Regions from separate parts of the Homo sapiens genome. Here region 1 is linked to region 2. A link means that fine-mapping ties the variant in region 2 to the expression of a gene that starts in the linked region. Tissue or cell type: whole blood. Region 2 holds a variant in brackets; the other region holds the start of a gene. All regions are shown on one strand. Distances are between the middles of the regions.

Region 1 (8,000 bases), 64 kb after region 2:
AAAATGTTTCCAGATGGCCACTGCTGTTAGTAGGCTGTCATGGTTTGAGATGACAAGGGTTTTAAAGGACATCAGCGGACGGGGAGAAGGGATGACTACAAGAGCCACTGCACAGCTGGAGTCAGAAGGACTTGGCCGAGGAATCCAGAATGGCTTCCGAGCTCTCCAGCCTGGGAACTGGGAGGCCACCAGGTGACATCACATACAGGGAATGGAGGAGAATCAGAGCAGGTGTGAGGAAAGATGAGTTCAGCTTTGGCCATCAAGGTACAGATGTCCTCCAGCAACGGAAATGCCAGGTGGAAGTTCAGGAGGGAAGTAAGCTGGGAAATGTGATTCTGAGAGGTATCTGCCCAGAGGGGATCACCGGAACCAAGACGGTGAATGAGATCCTTCAGGAAAAGTGTGTGAAAAGAAAAAGCTGGGCTGCTGAGGCGAGACCCTCCAGCAAAGGCTGGGCCAGCAGAGGATGTGGGGAGAGGGGTTTAGAAATAGGAGGACAGTACAAACTACAGGGGCCACTGAGCATGTACCACAGGACATGACAGCTGAGCTTCTCATGACAGATGAAGGGAGCATAGCCACAGGGTAATGGGCACAGAGCAATCACACAGCCACAGGGTAACAGGCACAGCAGCAATCACACGGCCACAGGATAATGGGCACAGAGCAATCACACAGCCACAGGGTAATGGGCACAGAGCAATCACACAGCCACAGGGTAATGGGCACAGCAGCAATCACACAGCCACAGGATAATGGGCACAGCAGCAATCACACAGCCACAGGGTAATGGGCACAGAAGCAATCACACGGCTACAGGATAATGGGCACAGAGCAATCACACAGCCACAGGATAATGGGCACAGAGCAATCACACGGCCACAGGATAATGGGCACAGAGCAATCACACGGCCACAGGGTAATGGGCACAGCAGCAATCACACGGCCACAGGGTAATGGGCACAGAGCAATCACACGGCCACAGGATAATGGGCACAGAGCAATCACACGGCCACAGGATAATGGGCACAGAGCAATCACACGGCCACAGGATAATGGGCACAGAGCAATCACACGGCCACAGGGTAATGGGCACAGAGCAATCACACGGCCACAGGGTAATGGGCACAGAGCAATCACACGGCCACAGGATAATGGGCACAGAGCAATCACACGGCCACAGGGTAATGGGCACAGCAGCAATCACACGGCCACAGGGTAATGGGCACAGCAGCAGTCACACGGCCACAGGGTAATGGGCACAGAGCAATCACACGGCCACAGGGTAATGGGCACAGCAGCAATCACACGGCCACAGGATAATGGGCACAGCAGCAATCACACAGCCACAGGGTAATGGGCACAGAAGCAATCACACGGCTACAGGATAATGGGCACAGAGCAATCACACAGCCACAGGATAATGGGCACAGAGCAATCACACAGCCACAGGATAATGGGCACAGCAGCAATCACACAGCCACAAGGTAATGGGCACAGCAGCAATCACACGGCTACAGGGTAATGGGCACAGAGCGATCACACGGCCACAGGATAATGGGCACAGAGCAATCACACAGCCACAGGGTAATGGGCACAGCAGCAATCACGCAGCCACAGGGTAACGGGCACAGCAGCAGTCACACAGCCACAGGGTAATGGGCACAGAGCAATCACATAGCCACAGAGCAATGGGCACAGAAGGAATCAGACAAGCCCTGCCTTCACTCTTTATAAACTTGCCTTGGGAACAGGCTTCAAACATTCTTCTAGCTTTCAGGGAAACGGTCCACCCCACAGCTCCTTCCAGTCAAAAACAAGGTACTCATGGCCCTAGCTCTGTGGGAGAAACCAGGGAGTAGATACAGAAAATACTGTGCTAGATTAAGCCTTCCTTCAGGGAACTAACGATTGACACAGACTTACCATGGAAAACATCTTGGGATGTTTAATCAGACATGGGTTTAAATCCTAGTTCAGCCATTTAAAAATGATGTGATTCTGGCCAGGTTCAGTGGCTAGCACTTGTAATCCCAGCTACTTGGGGGGCTGAGGCAGGTGGATCCCTGAGGCCAGGAGTTCAAGACTAGCTGGGGTAACACAGTGAGACTCCCCCTCCATCTCCGAAAAAAAAAAAGGGATGTGATCTTGGTCAGATTGCTTCTCCAAGCCTTCCTTCTGCATATGTGGGGATAATACAGACTTCATGTTATGCCTTTGGGGATCATGTGATATATACCAGTCAAGCCCTTGCTAGTGGGTTGGCACTGCTATCTCCTGACCCCATCTCCCCGGGACGCTATGATGGATAAATGAGATAGAGCTACAGTAAGAATCCAGTTACAGAGTCTAATTAGGTGCTCAGTAAATGTTGGTTTCCCCAAACCTTTTCATGGTTGGCAAGACCAGAATCTTGTCACTATTCTTTGCCTCCCCCAGCTCAGAAACATCAAAGGATGTAGGTCTTTATCAGGTATGTTTCCTTTGGCCCAGAAACTAAAACGAGGGTGCAAACACTGCTCCCTATTCCTCATTCCTGAGTCATCTCCCCTTTCCCAGGAGTGAGAGATGCTACTCCTTCCTCAGTCTGTCATGCCCCCAAGAGCTCATATTCCCCATTTTCACAGGCCAGACACCAGCAGAGAAAACACTGACTCCAGGAGACTAAGGACCATCTTACCCCTCCCACCATTTATGGGAGCGGCAGCAGGCCAAGGGCTCAGCACTATGTAACCCACTTGTGGAGGCAATCCATCTCATCTCACAGTGGCTGAGACCGACTCCCAGGGAGGGTTACGCTGCGAAGGGGACCTCCCTGGGGGTTACCGCCCTTCTTTCTGGCTCAGGAGGCTCTCCCAGGGTCCCAAAATATAGTCCCTCCTGACGCTGTAAATTTAATTTTATTGCATTATTGGCTTAGTTGAGCAGATGTTTGGCCCTAAACACCTGCCTTCCAGGCGCATTAAGTACGCACAGTTTGAAGTAGTAAGTCCCAGGGCGGTTACTAGCTGGAAAATACTCCGGTACTCTATCATGGATGGTTAACTAGTGCTTGCCACAGCCCGCTTCTTAGGTTTATTAAGCACCTACTCCATGCCAGACACTGTGCTAGGTGGTACACAGGTAAGATCTCTTCTATTCACAATCACCTTTTGAGGACTAGTATTCCTGCTCTAGAGATAAGGACACTGAGGCGCAGAAACGATTTGCTGAGGGTGTCCCAGCCTGAATGTGGTGGGGCTGGGAAGCAATTACGGCTGAGGGGCTCCAAGCCCTTAGAGCTCTGCCATTCCGCTCCTGAAAAGCTGTCTGGGGGCGGGGACCAGACCATTTCCCCCCAGCCTACTACTGCTGACACATCTCGGGGTGCCTCACCCCCAGCTCTCCCAGAACAGCCTCCTGGTCTTAGCAGCGTGTGCCAAGATTTAGCAGGGAGCATCTAGTTCCTATGGGCTCCCTCCCAGACCTTGCCTGTAAGATTCTGAATCCGGACGCACGCAGGTTCACAAAGTGATACCTCAGGAGCGCAGCCGCCCCCACCGCGGGTGTGACCCGCGCAACCCCACAAGGGACACTGTACCTCGGCGATCTCAATGCAAAGTCGCCCAAAACTCAGTGGGGAGACACACTTCCATTCTCCCCGCTCTGTCGATGAGGAAACGTCATGAGCGTAAGACACTTGGAGCGTTAAGACACTTGCTCAAGAACGCAGCTGCCGTTCAGGAAATGAGGCCGTCGGGGCGCCCAGGGGTGCTCGGAGGGAGCCCGTTTCCCAAAGCACGTGCGCGAGCCCCGGGCGCTTCCAAGGGCTCTAACTTCACGTCTGCTCCGTGTTTTCAAGCGCAGGGGGCCGGAGGCGGCAAGACGCGGCCCAACGCGCGGCGGGACCCGGACCACCCCCCGCCAAGGCCACCCCGGGACCCCTAGACCCGCCCCGACGCGGGGGACGTTTCGGTCCGGGCCCGCGCGAGCGTGCGCGACAGGAGGAGACGCGACGGGGCAGCACCGCTCTGGTGGCGCATTGCTGGACGCAGCCCGGGGCCGGGGAGCCGCGGCACCCACCTAGGTCCATGGCGGCGACGCCGGCGGCTGCGCGGGGCTAACGCCCCCTCCCCTCCGAGAACTCGAACGCGGCGCGGGACGCACGGCACGATGGGAGACGCAGGAGCCACGGCGGCCGCGCTTAGGCCTGCTCACAACCTCCGCCCGGCCCCGCCCACAGCCTCCGCCGCGCACGCGCAGTCCTCACGAACGAGCGCGCCAAGCGCACAGCGCCGCCTTCCGGCAGAGCCCTCCCACCAGCCCTCAGGTACCCGGACGTCGCTCACTAGACCCCTCCGCACCGTCCCCTGCCCGGCCCCTCTTCCGGGGTCCCAGCGGGTCGGGCTCATGATTCCCCGGCCCCGCATTCACCCTCACCCGGTAACCCCGGGCGTGCCCCGCACACAGTTCACCCCCACCGAGCGCCTCCCCCGGGACGCCCACCACCCAGCGCGGCCGCACCACGCGAGGCTTCCACTCCCACCCGCCCAGCTCGCGCCACATACAGTCCCTCAACGCGCTCCTGCCGCGCCGCCCCCTCCAGACAGCAGCGTTCCGGATCCTAGACGCTTTTTGACGGCTGGTCCTCCCCAGAAAATGCGCCGTGTGAGCCCAAACATGGTGGGGTTTACGCTGGACCCCGAGCTTGCAATCTGTGCTTGACAAAACACAAACATCGCGTGCCTGTCTCCTCCCCCTGAGATCGAGTAGTAACAGCCACTCCAACTCTCCACCTCCAGCTTCTAGCACCAGGGACCGCCTCCACCACCCCATGTGCCAAGTGGAGTTCGAGCTGCGCGGCCCTCAAGCAGCTGAAGGGTCCCGTGAGCGATCAGGAGAAGCTGCTGGTCTACGGCTTGTACAAACAGGCCACCCAGGGCGACTGCGACATCCCCGGCCCTCCGGCCTCAGACGTGAGAGCCAGGGCCAAGTGGGAGGCTTGGAGCGCGAAAAAAGGGGCGTCCAAGATGGACGCCATGAGGGGCTACGCGGCCAAAGTGGAGGAGCTGACGAAGAAGGAAGTGGGGGGCGTGGAGCGCGAACAAAGGGGCGTGCAAGATGGACGCCATGAGGGGCTACGCGGCCAAAGTGGAGGAGCTGACGAAGAAGGAAGTGGGGGGCGTGGAGCGCGAACAAAGGGGCGTCCAAGATGGACGCCATGAGGGGCTACGCGGCCAAAGTGGAGGAGCTGACGAAGAAGGAAGTGGGGGGCGTGGAGCGCGAACAAAGGGGCGTCCAAGATGGACGCCATGAGGGGCTACGCGGCCAAAGTGGAGGAGCTGACGAAGAAGGAAGTGGGGGGCGTGGAGCGCGAACAAAGGGGCGTCCAAGATGGACGCCATGAGGGGCTACGCGGCCAGAGTGAGGAGATGAGGAAGAAGGAGGCTGGCTGAGGGCTCCTCGGGAATGGAAAGGGCTTCTTAGACCTTGATGGCTGAAATGTCCTGAAACTGTCGCAAGCTTAGCCGAGACATCAATAAATCACTTAAACTGCATGAGAGTGACTGCTGTTGGAAAGGAGAAACTCGGTGACTGAGTGCTGGGGAGGCGTCCAAATACACAGACTAACTTTTTGTATGGTTTTGGGTGGAGTTCCCAGCTCTCCTATTACAAGAGCGTATGTAGGTATTTGGAAGGACGAGGGGGACAGTGTGCTGTGGAAATGCCCAAGATCTGAGGGCAGGAGACCATTCTCCAGTGACAGCCTCTTGGGAGGTTGAGGCCCCAGCCCCTTATCTCTTCAAGGCTGATTTACTAATACCCCAGCACCACAGAGGGGAGAGGGACTCTGTCCTCCTAAACACTAAAGTCAAGTCCAAAAGCCCCCACTGGAACACAGGGCCTACCCGGTTCATGTTTTGAGGGAGACCAAGCTTTCCGTGATGATAATGTGATGAAACAATTGATGCGCCAGAACACAGCAGTTTAGAAACAATGGAGCAGATGGTGTCAAAATCCCAGCCCCAGAAAGGCTCACCTAAGGCCGGGCAACCAAAATGTTCCCGGGACTATTCTGTACTTAACCCTGGTTTCTGCTTAGGGGACGGTGGGACAATATGCATATGGATGTCTATGTGGGATTTGTTGCAAGAGCACAACACACCCCTTGACCTATGCAAGTGCCAGAGTGTCTGAGCCCAGCTTCTACTCCTGTTAATGATCACAGGAGCCTCATACACAACCATTGTGCATGGCGGCTGGAGTATGGAGTAGTAAATGGTATCCAGAAAGGCAGGTCTACGGTGGCATATGGGATTTCCTGGTACTTCTTCTTTAATAGAAACTATCTTCACAGATCATGACATCAGGTCAGCTGCAGTTCTCACTGGGACCAATAAACAATAGAAGCAACAACCATAAAGACTTAAGAGGACAAAGGAAACCAAACCTCACTGTGTGTCTTCAAGATCTGTTCACATAGTTGCAGGAAGTTGCTGTAGACAAAGTACATTACTAAAGAATGAAGCCCACCCAGGACATCACAGCAACGAAAGAACTATTTCTGGTAACTGTGGACCAGGTGAGAGCCACACTGTAGAACAGCAGTGCTGCCCTCTCTTCTTTGGCGAATGTTATGAAGACATTCTGATGCACTTAGGATCATGATTCATGTTAAATGTAAATTAATTGTAAAAATAATACATCTTGCTCCAAAATGTGGTGACAATTTAGAAGCTGTCCACATAGCCAGACCACTCTGTAAATCACAGAACCTAGAAAGTAAAAATGTGCCATAATTAGGACAGCAGAAAGTAACAGTAAAATAAAGTTTTAAAAAAAAAAACAGAAAATAAGGATTTATCTATTTGTATTTGCTTAAGAAGAGGTTACCTATAGGATGCAGGGGGAATGGGATTGATGGGCATGGGGTATACTGTGAAAGGAAAATAAAATCTTGGGACCAAATTCACTAAGCGAAAAGGAAAAGTTAAGCTTGGAAATTGAGTCATGGAATATGCAAAAAACTTCCTTTTGTTCCTAAACAGATAAGCTACAAGACAGAAGGCCACATATCTCCCCAGGTGGTCTCCCTCACCTGACAATATAAATTAACAGCTTATCTTCATAGGTAAGGGACAAAGACAACACCAGAAACCATCCCTCACCAGCCGAGACAAAACATAGATGTACTGAGCTGAATGCATAACTGTTCCTCTGCCTGCTGCTTTCACTGTAACATATAGATTTGGTGAGCAGTAAATGTAGATTTACTGAGCTGAATGCATAACTGTTCCTCTGCCCGCTCCTTTCACTGTAACATGTAGATTTGGTGAGCGCTAAATGTAGATTTACTGAGCTGAATGCATAACTGACTGTTCGTCTGCCCGCTCCTTTCACTGTAACATGTAGATTTGGTGAGCACTAAATGTAGATTTACTGAGCTGAATGCATAACTGAGTGTTCCTCTGCCCGCTCCTTTCACTGTAACATGTAGAGTTGGTGAGCGCTAAATGTAGATTTACTGAGCTGAATGCAAAACTGACTGTTCCTCTGCCTGCTCCTTTCACTGTAACATGTAGATTTGGTGAGTGCTAAATGTAGACTTACTGAGCTGAATGCGTAACTGTTCCTCTGCCCGCTCCTTTCACTGTAACATGTAGATTTGGTGAGCACTAAATGTAGATTTACTGAGCTGAATGCAAAACTGACTGTTCCTCTGCCTGCTCCTTTCACTGTAACATGTAGATTTGGTGAGTGCTAAATGTAGATTTACTGAGCTGAATGCAAAACTGACTGTTCCTCTACCCCCTCCTTTCACTGTGACATGTAGATTTGGTGAGCGCTGATCAAAGCCTAATAAGAATGTAACCACTTATCTCCCTACCTACCCTCCTGTATTTTTCCTTTCCCTCTTCCCTCCCTTCCTGCTCTTTCCCTTTTAAATACTTGTTAGGAATAATGCTCAAAATCCTAAGGAAATAGAACACTCGAACAAAGGATTCTTAGCAAAGCAA
Region 2 (8,000 bases):
AATTCCTGAAACTAATAAGTGAGTTCAGCAAAGCTGCACAATATAAGGTCAATAAATAAAAATCAATTACATTTCCACAACTAGCAAGAGACAACTGGAAATTTAAATTTTAAGAGATACCATTTATAATCATACCAAAAACCACAAAATATTTAGTATAAATCTAGCAAACTATGAGCAAGATCTATATACTAAAAACTAAAACACACTGTTGAGAGAAACTAAAGACCTAAATATATGAAGAAATATTCCATGTTCATAGATTGGAAGATTTAATATTGTAAAGATGTCAATTCTCCTTCAATTGATCTATAGACTCAACGCAATCCCAATCAAAGTCCCAGAGATTTCCTTTTTTTCTTTTCTTAAATCAACAAGTTGGCCGGGCGCGGTGGCTCACACCTGTAATCCCAGCATTTTGGGAGGCCGAGGCGAGTGAATCACCGAGGTCAGGAGTTCGAGACCAGCCTGGCCAACATAATTAAACCCCGTCCCTACTAAAGAATACAAAAAATTAGCCAGGCATGGTGGCTCACGCCTGTAATCCCAGCGACTCGAGAGATTGAGGCAGGAGAATCACTTGAACCTAGGAGGCGGAGGTTGCCGTGGGCCGAGATCGCGCCACTGCACTCCAGCCTGGGCAACAAGAGCTAGATTCTGTTTCCAAAAAAAGGAAAAAAAAAGACTAATAAAGGAAAACAGATCCCAATACCTGTAAAAGTCCTGATGATCTTGGCGTAAAAACTGCCTTGCTTTAGAGATGCAATGAGAGACAGAGAAAACAAAAAGACAGATGTACTCAACACAAACAGCTGGAGTGGAGAAAGCGGGCAGCTTTGAGTCTGAGAGCCAGGAAGGGAAGACTGCAGTTCCAAGAGCCTGGGTCTGGAAACCGGTGTTGAACAGGCAGCAAAGGCTCCCTGCAGTGACCCAGGTGTCAGTTCCTTCTGTTCATTACAATACGGCATCCAAAAATACTTTTCTTCTAAAATAATATACCAACGGCCCTCAACTTGGGATGGTTCAACACAGAATTTTCTTACTACACGATGGTGCAAAGGTGAGAAACATTCTGTAGAAACCATACTTTGGGTACCCATACAACCACTCTGTTTTTCACTTTCTGTACAGTATTCAACAGATCACATGAGCTATTCAACACTTTAGTATAAAATAGGCTCGGTGTTAGATGATTTGCCTGACTGTAGCCTAATGTAAGTGTTCTGAGCAAATAAATTTAAGGCACGGTAGGCTAAGCTATGATGTTCAGTAAATTACATGTATTAATAAATTTTCAACTTAGGATATTTTCAACTTACGATGGGTTTATCAGAATAAGAACTTATTCTTCATTGCAAGTTAAGAAGCATGTGTATGATTGAGAAAAATCTGGAAACAGGTGTGGTGGCTTGCACCTGTAATTCCAGCCACTCAGGAGGCTGAGGCAGGAAGATCGCTTGAGGTAAGGAGTCCAAGACCAGCCAGAGCAATAAAGGAACACCCCATCACTACAAAAAAAAACTTTTTAAATTAAAAAATTAGCCAGACATGGTGACATGCACTTGTAGTCCTACCTACTTGGAAGTCTGAGGTGGGAGGATCGTTTGAGGCCAGGAGTTTGAGACAGTGAGCTATGCACGCCACACTCCAGCCTGGATGACCCTGGAGCGAGACCCTGTCTCTAAAAAAAAAAACAGAGAGAGAAGAGAATTGGCTGGTTGCAGTGGCTCATGCCTGTAATTCCAGCACTCTGGGAAGCGTAGGTGGGAGGATCACCTGAAGCCAGGAGTTCTAAACCAGCCTGGGCAACACAGTGAGATTCCATCTCTACAAAAAGTGTTTTAAAACAGTCAGGCATAGTGGTGTGCACCTGTAGTCCTAGCTACTTGGGAGGCTGAGGTGGAAGGATCACGTGAGCCCAGGAGTTCAAGGCTAGAGTGAGCTACGATCCTGCCATTACATTCCAGCCTGAATGACAGAGTGAGACCCTGTCTCTAAGAAGAAAAAAAAGAAGAATTTGGAAGTTATAAAAACTAGAAATGAAAAAAAATCTATCTGCAGTCTCAAATTTCAAAAACAATACAAATAATAAATTCTGTTGTCAAGTGGAATGTTTATTTTAACTATAGGGTGATATTGCATGTCACGCCAGGCAAACATCTAATGGAGGTCTTGAAGACAGGACAAGAGAAATGAACCTTTGACCACCACTGTTGCCACAGCAGATATTCTGGACCATAGGTAAGCTGTGCCGCCATTTTTATTCACAGAGAACAGCACGCTGAAGGCAGTAAGGGGCCTGGGATAATTCAGAACAAGTAAACCTGGAGTTGCTTTAAAGCACAGCAGTGGGGCTGGAGAGGAGCTGATGGAGCTGACGGAAAAGCCACAGGAACTCGACAAATACCTGGATGCACGGAACTAGGAAAACTGAAATTCCAGTGGACTGTGTATCAGCAGCACTGGTGTTCCTGCCATTTACTAAACATGAGTGAGCCCAACATTGTGCAAAAAAGGTGTTTTAAAATACATTTATTCTAGGCCAGATGTGGTGGCTCATGCCTGTAATCCCAGCACTTTAGGAGGCTGAGGCAGAAGGATTGCTTGAGGCCAGGAGTTTGAGACTAGCCTGGGCAACATAGCGAGACCTCATCTACACAATACTTAAAAATTACATTAGCTGGGCGCAGTGGCTCACGCCTGTAATCCCAGCACTTTGAGAGGCCAAGGTGGGCAGATCACCTGAGATCAGAAGTTCAAGACCAGCCTGGCCAACATGGTGAAACCCTGTCTCTACCAAAAATATAAAAACTAGCCAGGCGTGGTGGTGGTCGCCTGTAATCTCAGCTACTTGGGAGGCTGAGGCAGGGAGAATCACTTGAACCCAGGAGACGGAGGTTGCAGTGAGCAGAGATCGTAACACGGCACTCCAGCCTGGGTGACACAGCAAGACTCCAGCTCAAAAAAAAAAAGCCAGGTGCGGTGGCTCATACCTGTAATCCCAGCACTTTGGGAGGCTGAGGCACGCAGATCATGAGGTCAGAAGATCGAGACCATCCTGGCCAACATGGGGAAACCCCATCTCCACTAAAATACAGAAAATTAGCCGGGCGTGGTGGCACATGCCTGTAGTCCCAGCTACTCAGGAGGCTGAGGCAGGGGAATTGCTTGAACCCAGGAGGCAGAAGCTGCAGTGAGCCAAGATCGCACCAATGCACTCCAGCCTGGAGAGAGAGCAAGACTCAGTCTCAAAAAAAAAAAAAAAAAGATGCGCATGGTGGCATGTGCCTGTGGTCCCAGCTACTCGGGACGCTGAAGTGAGAGGATCACTTGAGCCCACGAGGTTGAGGGCGCAGCGAGCTGTGATTGCACCACTCCACTCTAGCCTGGGCAACAAAGTAAGACCCTGTCTCAAAAACAAATAAATAAATAAGTGGATAAATAAAATAAAGTATATTAATTCTAATCCCCCCTAACCCTGAGGTACGTATTATTATCTCCATGTCACAGATG[G/A]AAAGTTAAATATCTTGTCCAAGGTCACACAGATAACAGCAGAGACAAAATTTAAATTCAAAGCTCAAGTTTTTTTCACTTTACCAAGATGCCATCCAATGTTACATCACTGAAGATATCTAACTACACCAATCCTTAGAGAATTGAAATAAAATGCCCAGTCCTTCACTGTACATAGAGGAGAGAAGATAGCTATTTGGATTCCTTATAGCTTTTCTAAAAATGAGGGATTTTAGAGGATACGTGGCAAAGTGTTCCAAATATGCCGCAGACATGTCTCCCTGCCAAAAAAGCGCTATCAAGGTGATATGATTTGGCTGTGTCCCCACCCAAATCCCTACATGTCATAGGAGGGACCTGGTGGGAAGTCACTGAACCACGGGGTGGTTTCTCCCATTCTATTCACGTGATAGTAAGTTCTCACAAGATCTGATGGTTTTGTAAGAGGCTTCCCCCTTCGCTCAGCTCTCATTCTTCCTCTCTCCTGCCACCTTGTGAAGAAGGATGGGTTTGCTTCCCTTTCCACCATGATTGTAAGTTTCCTGAGGCATCCCCAGCCCTGCAGAAATGTGAGTCAATTAAACCTCTTTCCTTTATAAATTACCCCGTCTAAGGTATTTCTTCATAGCAGTGTGAGAACGGACTAATACACAAGGCTTGTGTGCAATAAACAGGATGAAGAATGGTAGTGAGGCCAAACCCAGTTGCACTACATTGTTAAACAGTTAACGGACATTTTATGAGTCCCCGCCTCAACTACAACCAGTAGCACTCTAGAAGCAGGCAAAATGAACAGTCGCCCGCCCCGCCTCAACTACAACCAGTAGCACTCTAGAAGCAGGCAAAATGAACAGTCACCGGATTCAACTTGACAAAGGCAAGCCAACCTTGACCTCTGCACTAGACGTAAGAAATCCTGGTTGGGAAATGACTGTGAGCCCGAATCAAAACTCTGCCCCTACAAAAGGCTGATCTAACAACCCGACTCCAGGGCTGCCCCACAGATCACGGTGTTCAGGGCACTCCCAGGTCATGTCCAAACCTCAGCAATTCCTGAAGTTTAGTGTTATTTGCAGACATGCTGAAAAGTACAACGCAAAAAATAATAACAGAAAAGAAACAAAAAATGTCCAGCCAATCTTGGCCACTAATGGGAAACTTCGAGGCCATACTCTAAAAGCTCAGTCGCTTTAGCTGTGGTATGTTTTAGTAGGAAGAAGCAAGTAGCAATTGCCATTTTTTTCCAAACTATTTGTGGTCCCTTTAATACTAATACCAATTACTTTCTTCAATTTTTATCAATCAATGGGCTTCATTTTCCTCCCAAGAGAGGATGAGAGAAAGGATCAATTTAAAGTGAGGGAGGATAAGAATATAAAGTCTCCTTCTAGTGAGCTGACAATGACAAATTCAAAATCCCACATAATGAAGATCAATGCCATGCTGGGAAGTCAGTCTTGGAGAGCAGTTATTTTTGTTCTTTTCACTTGAGACAGGGTCCCCAGGCTGCAGTGTAGAGGTGCCATCATAGACTGCTGTAACCTCAAACCCCTGGGCTCACGCAATCCTCCTACCTCAAACTCCTGAGTAGCCAAGACTATAGGTTTGTGCCACCATGCTGGACTAATTTTTTTTTTTTTTTTTTTTTTTTTTTGAGATGGAGTCTCACTCTGTCACCAAGGCTGGAGTGCAGTGGCACCATCTCAGCTCACTGCAACCTCCACTTCCTAGGTTCAAGTGATTCTCCAGCCTCAGCCTCGTGAGTAGCTGGGACTACAGGCACGCACCACTGCATCTGGCTAATTTTTGTATTTTTAGTAAAGCCCAGGTTTCCCCATGTTGGCCAGGCTGGTCTTAAACTCCTGATCTCAGGCGATCCGCCCACCTCCGCCTCCCAAAGTGTTGGGATTACAGGCGTAAGCTACCAAGCCCGGCCTATTTTCGTTCTAATGCTTGAATTGCATAATATGCTAATTTTGAGGAAGAAAAGCAAGGAACACTTTCTCCTTGGAAGGCAATGTACTTTGCTGCTTTAGTTCATAATCTTTATGATATCTCTATGTAAAAGTGAAGAAGGCAAGTATTAACAGCCTCCTTTTTTGGTGAAAATCAAGACATGGGAAGATGAAGAAACAGCCCCGGACGACACACACAGACAGGTAGAAATCCTGTTTTTTGGGTCTGGCACTTTGCGCTGAAGTGAGGAGGAAGAACAGGAAGCCTCTGACGGCACGTCACACGGCTCTGAATCCACTCCATTCTGCCTTTTCATCTACAACTTGAATGAAGACACAGAAGGCATGTCTGGCAAATCTGCTAATGATAAAGTGGGGAGGTCATCAAGGCTCCCAAAGATCTTGATGGGATAAACAATCGAGCAGAACTAGTGGGATGAAACGAAAGCTGAGACACACACGGTCTGACAATTTCAAAGACTCTCTTGCACAAACAGAGGTGGAGAAAGTTTAAATGAAAGTCATATGAAGAAAGACCTGGGACAGTACTGGCCCACAGATGTGTTTTGTTTGCCCTTTGCAGTGTTTGTGAAAAACACTAAGCCAATAGTTAAAAATTGTGAGAGTTACATGAAAATCCGGATTTCCGGCTGCTCTTGAAAAACTGATAGATCTGGCAATTCCAGGTCTGCGTTCAGACGTGACAACAGCTGATTAGAATTCACTTGTGACTATCCCCTTAGGACCTGGTGGATGCATGTGGACACACACCAGCCTGCTTACGCCGCTTAGGTTACTTTCCCAGCTCTGCGGACATCTGTTTGCGACTCTTGACCTGGGGGTTTCAGGTGACTGCCAACTCAGTAGAAGCCAACCATGTAATACGGCTGCCAAAAATCTCAGCAAATCCAAGGTAATGGAAGAATAGTGTCTAAAATAAAAAATCTCAGCAAATCCAAGGTAATGGAAGAACAATGTCTACAATCAAAAATCTCAGCAAATCCAAGGTAATGGAAGAACAGTGTCTAAAATCGGTGGCCCTTAAGTTTTGAAGAGTCACAGACTCCTTAGAAAATCTAGAAAAATCAATAAGTTTTCCTCCCATAAATATGTCTAGACATACAAAAATTTACAGTTAATTTCAGGGACTTGACAGACACTCTGGACCCCCAGTCCCTAAGTTAATGAGCTCGGCCCAGAACAAAGAGGTCAACTGTCTCAGTGTATATGTTGACACAGCATGTCCACTCCTGGGAACCACATTTTAAGAGGGATGCTGACAAACAGCTATCAAGAGCAAGGATGATAAAGGGTCTGGAAATTGCATTATAAAGATGAAGAAACTAAGAATGGTTAGCCTAGAAAAGGGAACACTTAGGAACATAATATCCATTTTCAATTTCAGAAGCTGTAGTAAGGAAAAGGGATTAGGCTTACACCCATCCAGCTGGCAGAACTAAGATCAACAAGAAGTTACAATGAAGTCTATTTCACTGTTTCAGTTCAGTCTAAGAAAGGAGTTTCTCACAACTAAAGCTATAAAACTGAACTAGTCTGTCCTGTGGACCAACAAAGTAGCAAGCTCCCCATCACTGAAAGTAGCCAAGCTTCTGCAAGATAATGAAACGTCAGAGATGTAATACAAAGGACTCCTGAACTGGGTGGAAGATTGTACTACAATTACCTAATCCTTCTTCCAAAGCGAAGGAGTGAGCAATACAGCACCCCCTCCTTATCAGCAGTTCACTTTCTGAGGTTTTAGCCACCTGTAGTTGACTGTGGTCCAAAAATATTACATGGAAAATTCCAGAAACAGACAATTAGTAAATTTTAAATTATGCGCCATTCTGAGTAGTGTGATAAAATCTTGCACCACCCAATTCTGTCCTGACCAGGTCACGAATCATTCCTTCACCCAGTATATCCATGCTGAATACAGCACCTATTAGTCACTTAGCAGCCATCTCGGCTATTACATACAGCTCCAAATCACAAGAGGAGTGATGCTGGCATACTGTCATAATTGTGCTATTTTATTTTTAGTTATTGTGGTGAATCTCTTACTGTGCCTAATTTGCATGCTAAAGTTTATCACAGGTATGTATACATAGGAAAAAATACGGCATATATAGGGTTTGCTACTCTCTGGGTTTCAGGCATCCACTGGGGGTCTTGGAATGTATCCCCCACAGGTAAGTGGGGACGACTTGTAATAATTCTCTTCTCCTCCCAAACCTTACTCTTGTTCTGATCAAAGAAATGGCTACATTGCAGCCAGGCTCCATTGAAGAGACAGAAACTCGGTGGCTGATCCTCTCCTGTGAGTCTGAGAGCTTACTGACGACCGGTCAACGTTGGCCACTCTTGAAACTTCCCACTGCCGGCTTTTTCTTCCTCTAACCCGCCCCTCTATTCACCTCTCTTTCACCTACGTTCAAGCCATCCATTTTAATTCTTGGGAAGCTGCAAAAATTTCATAGCATACCACATCATGTACTTGTTGAATTGACTCATCCACAAAGTTTTAAACGT

The links. PIP is the estimated chance that this variant, and not a neighbour inherited with it, causes the effect.
Region 1: it holds the start of GEMIN4, and the variant in region 2 is fine-mapped to the expression of GEMIN4 in whole blood (TOPMed, PIP above 0.99).

What each region holds. Positions count from the first base shown.
Region 1 is chr17:748,068-756,067 of GRCh38, forward strand. GEMIN4 (gem nuclear organelle associated protein 4) reads right to left here and starts at 4,197. Exons shown (of 2, transcript NM_015721.3): 1 at 4,066-4,197. The coding sequence starts at 4,075. It also overlaps the pseudogene DBIL5P. RefSeq lists an enhancer at 3,477-3,536 and silencers at 3,717-4,136, 4,317-4,576.
Region 2 is chr17:684,325-692,324 of GRCh38, forward strand. The region is part of intron 4 of VPS53 (VPS53 subunit of GARP complex); the gene reads right to left. Among named protein-coding and RNA genes, the nearest start is that of VPS53, 27 kb to the right of the region's middle. The variant G/A (reference allele first, on the strand shown) is at 3,514.